Homo sapiens: one gene and its partner. The protein of the gene in region 2 purifies or fractionates together with the protein of the main gene of each other region. This does not show direct contact. Each region holds a gene or a part of one and is shown on either strand. Other genes may lie near its edges.

Region 1 (3,657 bases), on a different chromosome or scaffold from region 2:
AACTGGACACAGGCACAGAGTTCCCTGCCCTGGATATCAAGCTGGGCACAGCCAGAGACTTGTCTTCGGTAGGGACAGTCAAGTCAGGCAAAACCGTGAACTTGGCTACAGCAGGCACAATCAAGCCGGGCACAGCCATGAATCTGACTACAGTTGGGACAACCAAGCCAGGGATGGTCATGGATTTGATAGCCTCAGAACCAGACAAGCTGGGCAAAGCCATGGCTACAAGAAGCACAGCCAAACCAGATATGACCACAGAGGGTATAGCCATGGATTCAGCAACATCAGACCCAGTCAAGCCGGACACAATCACAGCTACAGTGGGCACCAGTAGGTTGGAAACAGCCATGGCTTTGGCCAGAGTGAACAGAGCCAAGCTGGGCACGGCTAAGAATTCTCTTGCTTTGGACACAAGCAGGATGGGCACAGCTGTGGGTTCAGTTGTGCCAGTAACCCCAGACCCAGCCACTGGGAAGACCACACTGGGCAGTGTTAATAACCTAACCATATCAGACGTTGCTACATGCCTGCTAATGCCAAGCAGATCCACAGACCTAGCCCTGGACAACACTAATGCTGCCATGGACAGAGCCACAGAGCCTGCCTCACTGGACCTGGCCACAGAATACAAAGGTAAATGCAGAAACTTGGTTGGGGATGGACTAGGCTGCCGGGAGGGGGAGGTGTGTGAGCTTGGAGATGGATCATGCTTGCATGGGTTGAGAAACGGAGGAAGGACTCTAAGGTCAGGGTTGAATGGGTTGGGAGAAAAGGAAATGGGGGTTGTAGGGCCAGACATAGGGACTGTACCCTGAGCTGGGTTCTAACCTGCCAGTCTGAGGTCAGGCTGAGGGAAACTATCAGAAAGAAGGTTTTGGCCAGGTGTGGTGGCTCATACCTGTAATCCCAGCACTCTGGGAGGCTGAGATGGGAGGATTGCTTGAGTGCAGGAGTTCAAGACCAGCCTGAGAAAAATGGTGAGACTGTCTCTACAAAAAATAAAAAATAAGGGGCTGGGCACGGTGGCTCACGCCTGTAATCCCAGCACTTTGGGATCTGCCCAAGGCGGGCAGATCACAAGGTCAGGAGATCGAGACCATCCTGGCTAACACGGTGAAACCCCGTCTCTACTAAAAGTACAAAAAAAAAAAAAAAAAAAATTAGCCGGACGTGGTGGCGGGTGCCTGTAGTTCCAGCTACTTGGGAGGCTGAGGCAGGAGAATGGCGTGAACCCGGGAGGTGGAGCTTGCAATGAGCCGAGATCATGCCACTGCACTCCAGCCTGGGCGACAGAGCGAGACTCCGTCTCAAAAAAATAAAAAAATAAAAAATAAGGGTTGGGCACAGTGGCGCACACCTGTAATCCCAACATTTTGGGAGGCCAAGGCGGGTGGATCACTTGCGGTCAGGAGTTCAAGACTAGCCTGGCCAACATGGTGATACCCCGTCTCTACTAAAAATACAAAAGTTAGCCAGGTGTGGTGGCACATGCCTGTAGTCCCAGCTACTTGGGAGGCTGAGGCACGAGAAGCACTTGAACCTGGGAGGCAGAGGCTGCAGTGAGCCAAGATCGTGCCACTGCACTCCAGCCTGGTGACAGAGTAAGACTCTGTCTCAAAAAATAAAATAAGATAAAATAAAATAAAAAATTAGCAGGGCATGGTGGCATGCATCTGTGGTCCCAGCTACTGGGGAGGCTGAGGTGGGAGAATTGCTTGAGCCCAGGAGGTCGAGGCTGCAGTGAACCATGATTGTGCGACAGAGCAAGACCCTGTCTCAAAAAAAAAAAAAAAGAAAAGAAAAAGAAAGGTTAACAGGGGTAACTTGTGGAGGAGCAATTATGGTGAGTCCTCCTTTCAGCATCTCCCGGGATTGTTTGTTTCCTGAAGACCTGGAATAATCAGGTGATCAATAGGTGTGTCCACCTTTAAAAGCAGTGGCTCACACCTGTAATCCCAGCACTCTGGGAGGCTAAGGCGGGTGGATCACGAGGTGAGTTGTTCAAGACTAGCCTGGCCAGGCCAGGCGTGGTGGCTCACACCTATAATCCCAGAACTTTGGGAGGCCGAGACAGGTGGATCACGAGGTCAGGAGATCAAGACCATCCTGGCTAACAAGGTGAAACCCCGTCTCTACTAAAAATACAAACATTAGCCGGGTGTGGTGGTGGGTGCCTGTAGTCCCAGCTACTTGGGAGGCTGAGGCAGGAGAATGGCGTGAACCCAGGAGGCAGAGCTTGCAGTGAGCCGAGATTGCGCCACTGCAATCCAGCCTGGGTGACAGAGTGAGACTCCGTCTCAAAAAAAAAAAAAAAGAAAAAAAACTAGCCTGGCCAACATGATGAAACCCCGTCTCTACTAAAAAATACAAAAAATTAGCCAGGTGTGTAGGCTGAGACAGAGAATTGCTTGAACCCGGGAGGCGGAGGTTGCAGTGAGCTGAGATTGCGTCACTGCACTCCAGCCTGAGCGACAGAGCGAGACTCTGTCTCAAAAAGAAAAAAAAAAAAAAAAAAAAAAAAAAAAGCAAGCCTCCTACCTCCTACGTGAAAATACTGACTAGCGCTTTAGGAAGTTGTGATTTGTCTAATAGGTAGTCTCTGCAGCCTCCTCTGGATGTGAGATAATGACCTCACTCGAGACTTTCCAAATCCATTTACGCTCAGCCTTTTAGGAAGGTATCTGTTGCTTAAAAGTTGTCTTACCTGAATGTCTCTTTCTTGGTCCCCCACCCCCAGCCCTTTAATCCTGAAAGGTAAGTTGGAGCCTTGTATATATGGAAGTCCTACACAGAACTCTAAAATAGGGCAACACAAGGGCTGGACATTCATTTGGTCTTAGAAAGCCTGTGACATGCCTAAAGTCACACCAAAGCTGGCTGGTGGCAGTAAGCTGATTGGAATCCAGATTGTTAAAATCTCTACTTTGGGCAGCCTCATTCCCAACATTTCAAGGGCTCAGAGTTTTTGGGTCTGGAAAGGTGCCTAGAAGGCATCCAGTCTAATGCCTTAATTGAGTCGTTAGATTGTCAGACCCCTTTCCCTCCACCCCACACACTCAGTCTGGGCACCTCACCTAAATTCTGGTCTTCACTTCTCCCTACGAGATCTCAGCTCTCCCTCCATCTGCAGCCCAGCCCTGTCTCCTGAAGTGCAGATGTGGGCAGCCAGCAGCCTGCTAGGCTTATCTACCCGGATGTCTCCCGGGCATGTCCAGAGGTAGCCCTTTTCTTCTTGAACTGACTCCTGCCTCCCTGATCTCACTCTCTCAGCTGTAGGCATTGCCTACCTTTTATTAGGTGCCTAGAAACCCGGGTATCCTCTTCTTCCTCATCTCTCTCTTGCCATCTCATCCAGTCTACTTCCCACCTTGTTGGTTTACCTCCTCAGTACTCAACTATCTGGCTGGCTGTCCCCTCCTCTCCATCCTTCTGCCCCTGTGAGGCCACCTCCCACCCACCAGCTTGTTCCCTGTCCACACACAACTGCTGCAACGACTCCCACATTGAATGGCAGCACTTTCGGCTTAATATTCGTCAGTGACTCACCATTACCTTCCATTAAAATCCAGCTTCCAAGGCTGCGTGCGGACTTCTCCAGCCTCTTATTTAGCTCTACACACCTGTCTGGAATTTTCTCTGCTTCAGCGACACCAA
Region 2 (3,657 bases):
TTTCTACATGCTCACAACATAAACATGAGTAATCTGAGGGAAATACCTTTTAAGAACATCAAGGAAAAGTACAATGTTAACAAAGATAAGAAGCACTTTTTTTTTTAAACCTACTCTTACAAATTTAGAAATTGCACCTTAGATTGATGAAAACATGAACCAGGGCCTACAGTAATATGGCCACTGATCTTCAGACAAAATTTCCATATTTCAAGAGTCATCAAGATGTAATCTCTATCTATTGTTCATAATGTACAATGGTCCCTTTGAAGGTTACCTGTAGTTAAACTAGTTACCGAAATCAAAACTAAAAAGTATAAAAAGCTATTTTCTTTTCAAAACATAAGAAATAATGCAAAAGGTGTTATGTATAACACATGGGAAGTGGTTAAAAATCAAACAAATCTTTGCATTTGACAATGTTAGTATCTTTGATTTTACAGAACTAGTAAATGAGTTTGAGAAATTTCAAAAAAAAGGCTGGATAGGAGCTTGTAGAAAAGATCTGATTTACATCAATTTAATAAATTGGGAAATTTAAGTGCTAAACAACAAAGAATTGTACTCAGGTGATTCATAAGTCACCTTACATATCATTGATGAGAAGCACTTTCGTTTTGTTTTTTAAAGGTTGGATGGTTGGATGGCCCTTAGTTAAACACCAATGCATTCAAATGGTAGAAAGAACAGGAAGATGCATTTATGTGTATGCATTGAGCCGCTCTTTGGAGCGAGTAGAGTGGATGTCATGAAGCTCTTGCTCTTCCTTCGACTTGATGTCTTCATACTTCTGCATCCGGCAGGCGTCTTTCACATAGGCCCAGTTGGCAGACAGAACCATAAGGTAGTGAACCTAATCAAAGAGAAAAATAATTTATATTGGAAGTTTGTTCAGTGTCTTCATTACACCTTGCTATCTCGAAAGAAGTCTTCGAATTATAGCTCTTTATAGGAAATGTTCACATATAAAATGGAAACAAAATTTCTTTGGTAACAGAAACAATATAAAATATATTTTCATTCCTCCAACTATATCCCACCATATTCTTGGCACCATTTCTTTCAGTATCTCTTTCTCCTTTTCAATTCTTGGAAGTAATCCAAAACTAATTCTTAGTCTTTATAGGATGTTTCCTGCCCAATGTGTCCTCATTTGCCCAAACCATAGATGATTCATTTCATGTTCATGTATCTATGTTTTATAATCCATAATCAGAAATATTTTCACATACCGTTGTGTCTAACTGACTTGAATTAATTGGAGGTTCTATTACCCCAATTAAAGAGAGATCATGGAAACCCCCAAATATACCTGTGGACTTGATTATCAGGTTAATTTTGCATATGATGAATTTTGTAGTTTCTTTTTGGTTATAAACTACAGGAGATAAAATATTGTGTTACATGGATTTTTTATATGTATATACATTCACAAAAACTGGAATAGTGCCATGTTCAAAAAGGAAGCTCCTGGTTTGTCTTGAGTAATGAAGTTGCTGGAGAAATAAAGCTCCTTTATTTGACTTGAGTTTACCCAGCAATGAGACCGCTTATTTGTTTTTCTTTTCTTTCTTCCCTCTTGGTCCACAGGGGAGATAAAGCAGCTTTCCACATGATGAATTTTGATGAATAGGGAAGAGAAACTAAGTTGACAGTTATTTACATTCTCTGAGTTTTAAAGGGTGGGCAATATTTTAATCCAACATTCAGAAAAATAGAACACTAAGATTTTGATAATTAGTAAACAGTACATTGAAAGAGGAGGCGGGCTGGTTCTAGAAAAGTACAGATGGATATAAAGAATGCAATGTCAATTCTAAATAATGAATATTGTGGTGTGTTCAGGTAGTCAACAAACAGCAAAAAACAAAATAATTTTGACACGGGATGTAGGGGAAAAGATGCATACCACTATAAATAACCTATTTTTAGAATTTTCTGTTTCCTCTGAAGTTTAGCATTTTGTTTAAGGAATATTGTAAGCCACCTGAAAGCAGGGGCTGTGAGTTATATTCTTGTACATTATGGCATTTACATAGTGAAAGCATAATCACTGTATATATATATATATATATATATATATATATATATATACATATATATATGGATTAAATAAGGCTTATACACATAATGAAGTTTATGCAGTATTTTGTTGCTGTAAAATATCAAGTGCTGTGGAGAGTGCTTAGTACATAGCAGATACACAAAATATTTGCCAAATAAATGAATGTATTTTTCAATCTTCAAAAACTTTTCATAATATCTGAGAAAATGTGGCCCCCAAATTATTATTAAATATGTATAATTGAGGCCAGGTGCGGTGGCTCACGCCTGTAATCCCAGCACTTTGGGAGGCCAAGGCGGGTTGATCACTTGAGGTCAGGAGTCCAAGACCAGTCTGGCCAACATAGTGAAACCCCATCTCTACTAAAAGTACAAAACGTAGCTGGGTGTGGTGCCACGTGCCTGTAATCCCAGCTACTCGGGAGGATGAGGCAGGAGAATGGATTGAACCTGGGAGGCAGAGGTTTCAGTGAGCTGAGATCATGATACTCTCCTCTAGCCTGGGCAACAGAGTAGACTCTGTCTCAAAAAAATACATATATATATTTACATAATATATATTATATATAAAATATATATTTTTATATTATATATATTTTACATACATGAGGAAGCACCTGTTTCTGAATTGGAGTGATCTTGAATTTCTTTTCAGTATTTCACTCATGCATATATATATATATATATGTATTTATATATATTTATATATGTAAATATATATAAGATAAAAAATATATTTATATAAAAATATATATAATACAAAAATATATAATATATTTATATATAAAATATTTGTAATATAAAAATATATAACATATAATATATCATATATAATATATTATATGTGATATATAATATATAATATATTATATATGATATATTATATGTCACATATAATATATCATATATGTGACATATATCATATATTATATGTGACATAATATATCATATATAATATAAAATATATATTATATATTATATATAATATAAAATATATATTATATATTATATATTATATAAAATATATATTATATATTATATATAATATAAAATATATATTATATATTATATATTATATAAAAATATATAATATATAACATATAATATATTATATAATATATAATAATATAATATAGTATATATATAAAAATGTATAATTATATATATAAAAATATATGGAGAGCCTTAGAAGGACTCCCAGTAACCTCATATATATATGACCTTTATATATATATAAAACCTTTATATTTTTATATATATAAAAATATACAATATATTATATATTATATAAAAATATATTATATATTATATAAAATATATTATATATTATGTAAAATATATAATATATAATATATATTATATATATATTATATATTATATAAAATATAAAATATATAATATATATAATATATATATAATATATAATATATTATATATTATATATATTTATATATAATATATTATATATTATATAAAAATATAATATATAATATAAAAATATATAATCTATATATAATATATAATATAAAAATATATAATCTATTTATATATTATATATAAAAATATATAATATATAATATAAAATATATAATC

What was found. Proteins that work in one complex are often made in the same cells at the same time.
Region 1: the proteins of GPM6A (region 2) and SEPTIN3 purify together in Homo sapiens (affinity purification with mass spectrometry; one large-scale study listed by BioGRID and IntAct). This does not show direct contact.

The regions. Positions count from the first base shown.
Region 1 is NC_000022.11:41,972,361-41,976,017, forward strand, and holds part of SEPTIN3 (neuronal-specific septin-3), read left to right. Parts: coding exon 1-636; intron 637-3,657. UniProt on the Homo sapiens protein: Filament-forming cytoskeletal GTPase. May play a role in cytokinesis.
Region 2 is NC_000004.12:175,634,205-175,637,861, forward strand, and holds part of GPM6A (neuronal membrane glycoprotein M6-a), read right to left. Parts: intron 854-3,657; coding exon 701-853; 3' UTR 1-700. UniProt on the Homo sapiens protein: Involved in neuronal differentiation, including differentiation and migration of neuronal stem cells. Plays a role in neuronal plasticity and is involved in neurite and filopodia outgrowth, filopodia motility and probably synapse formation.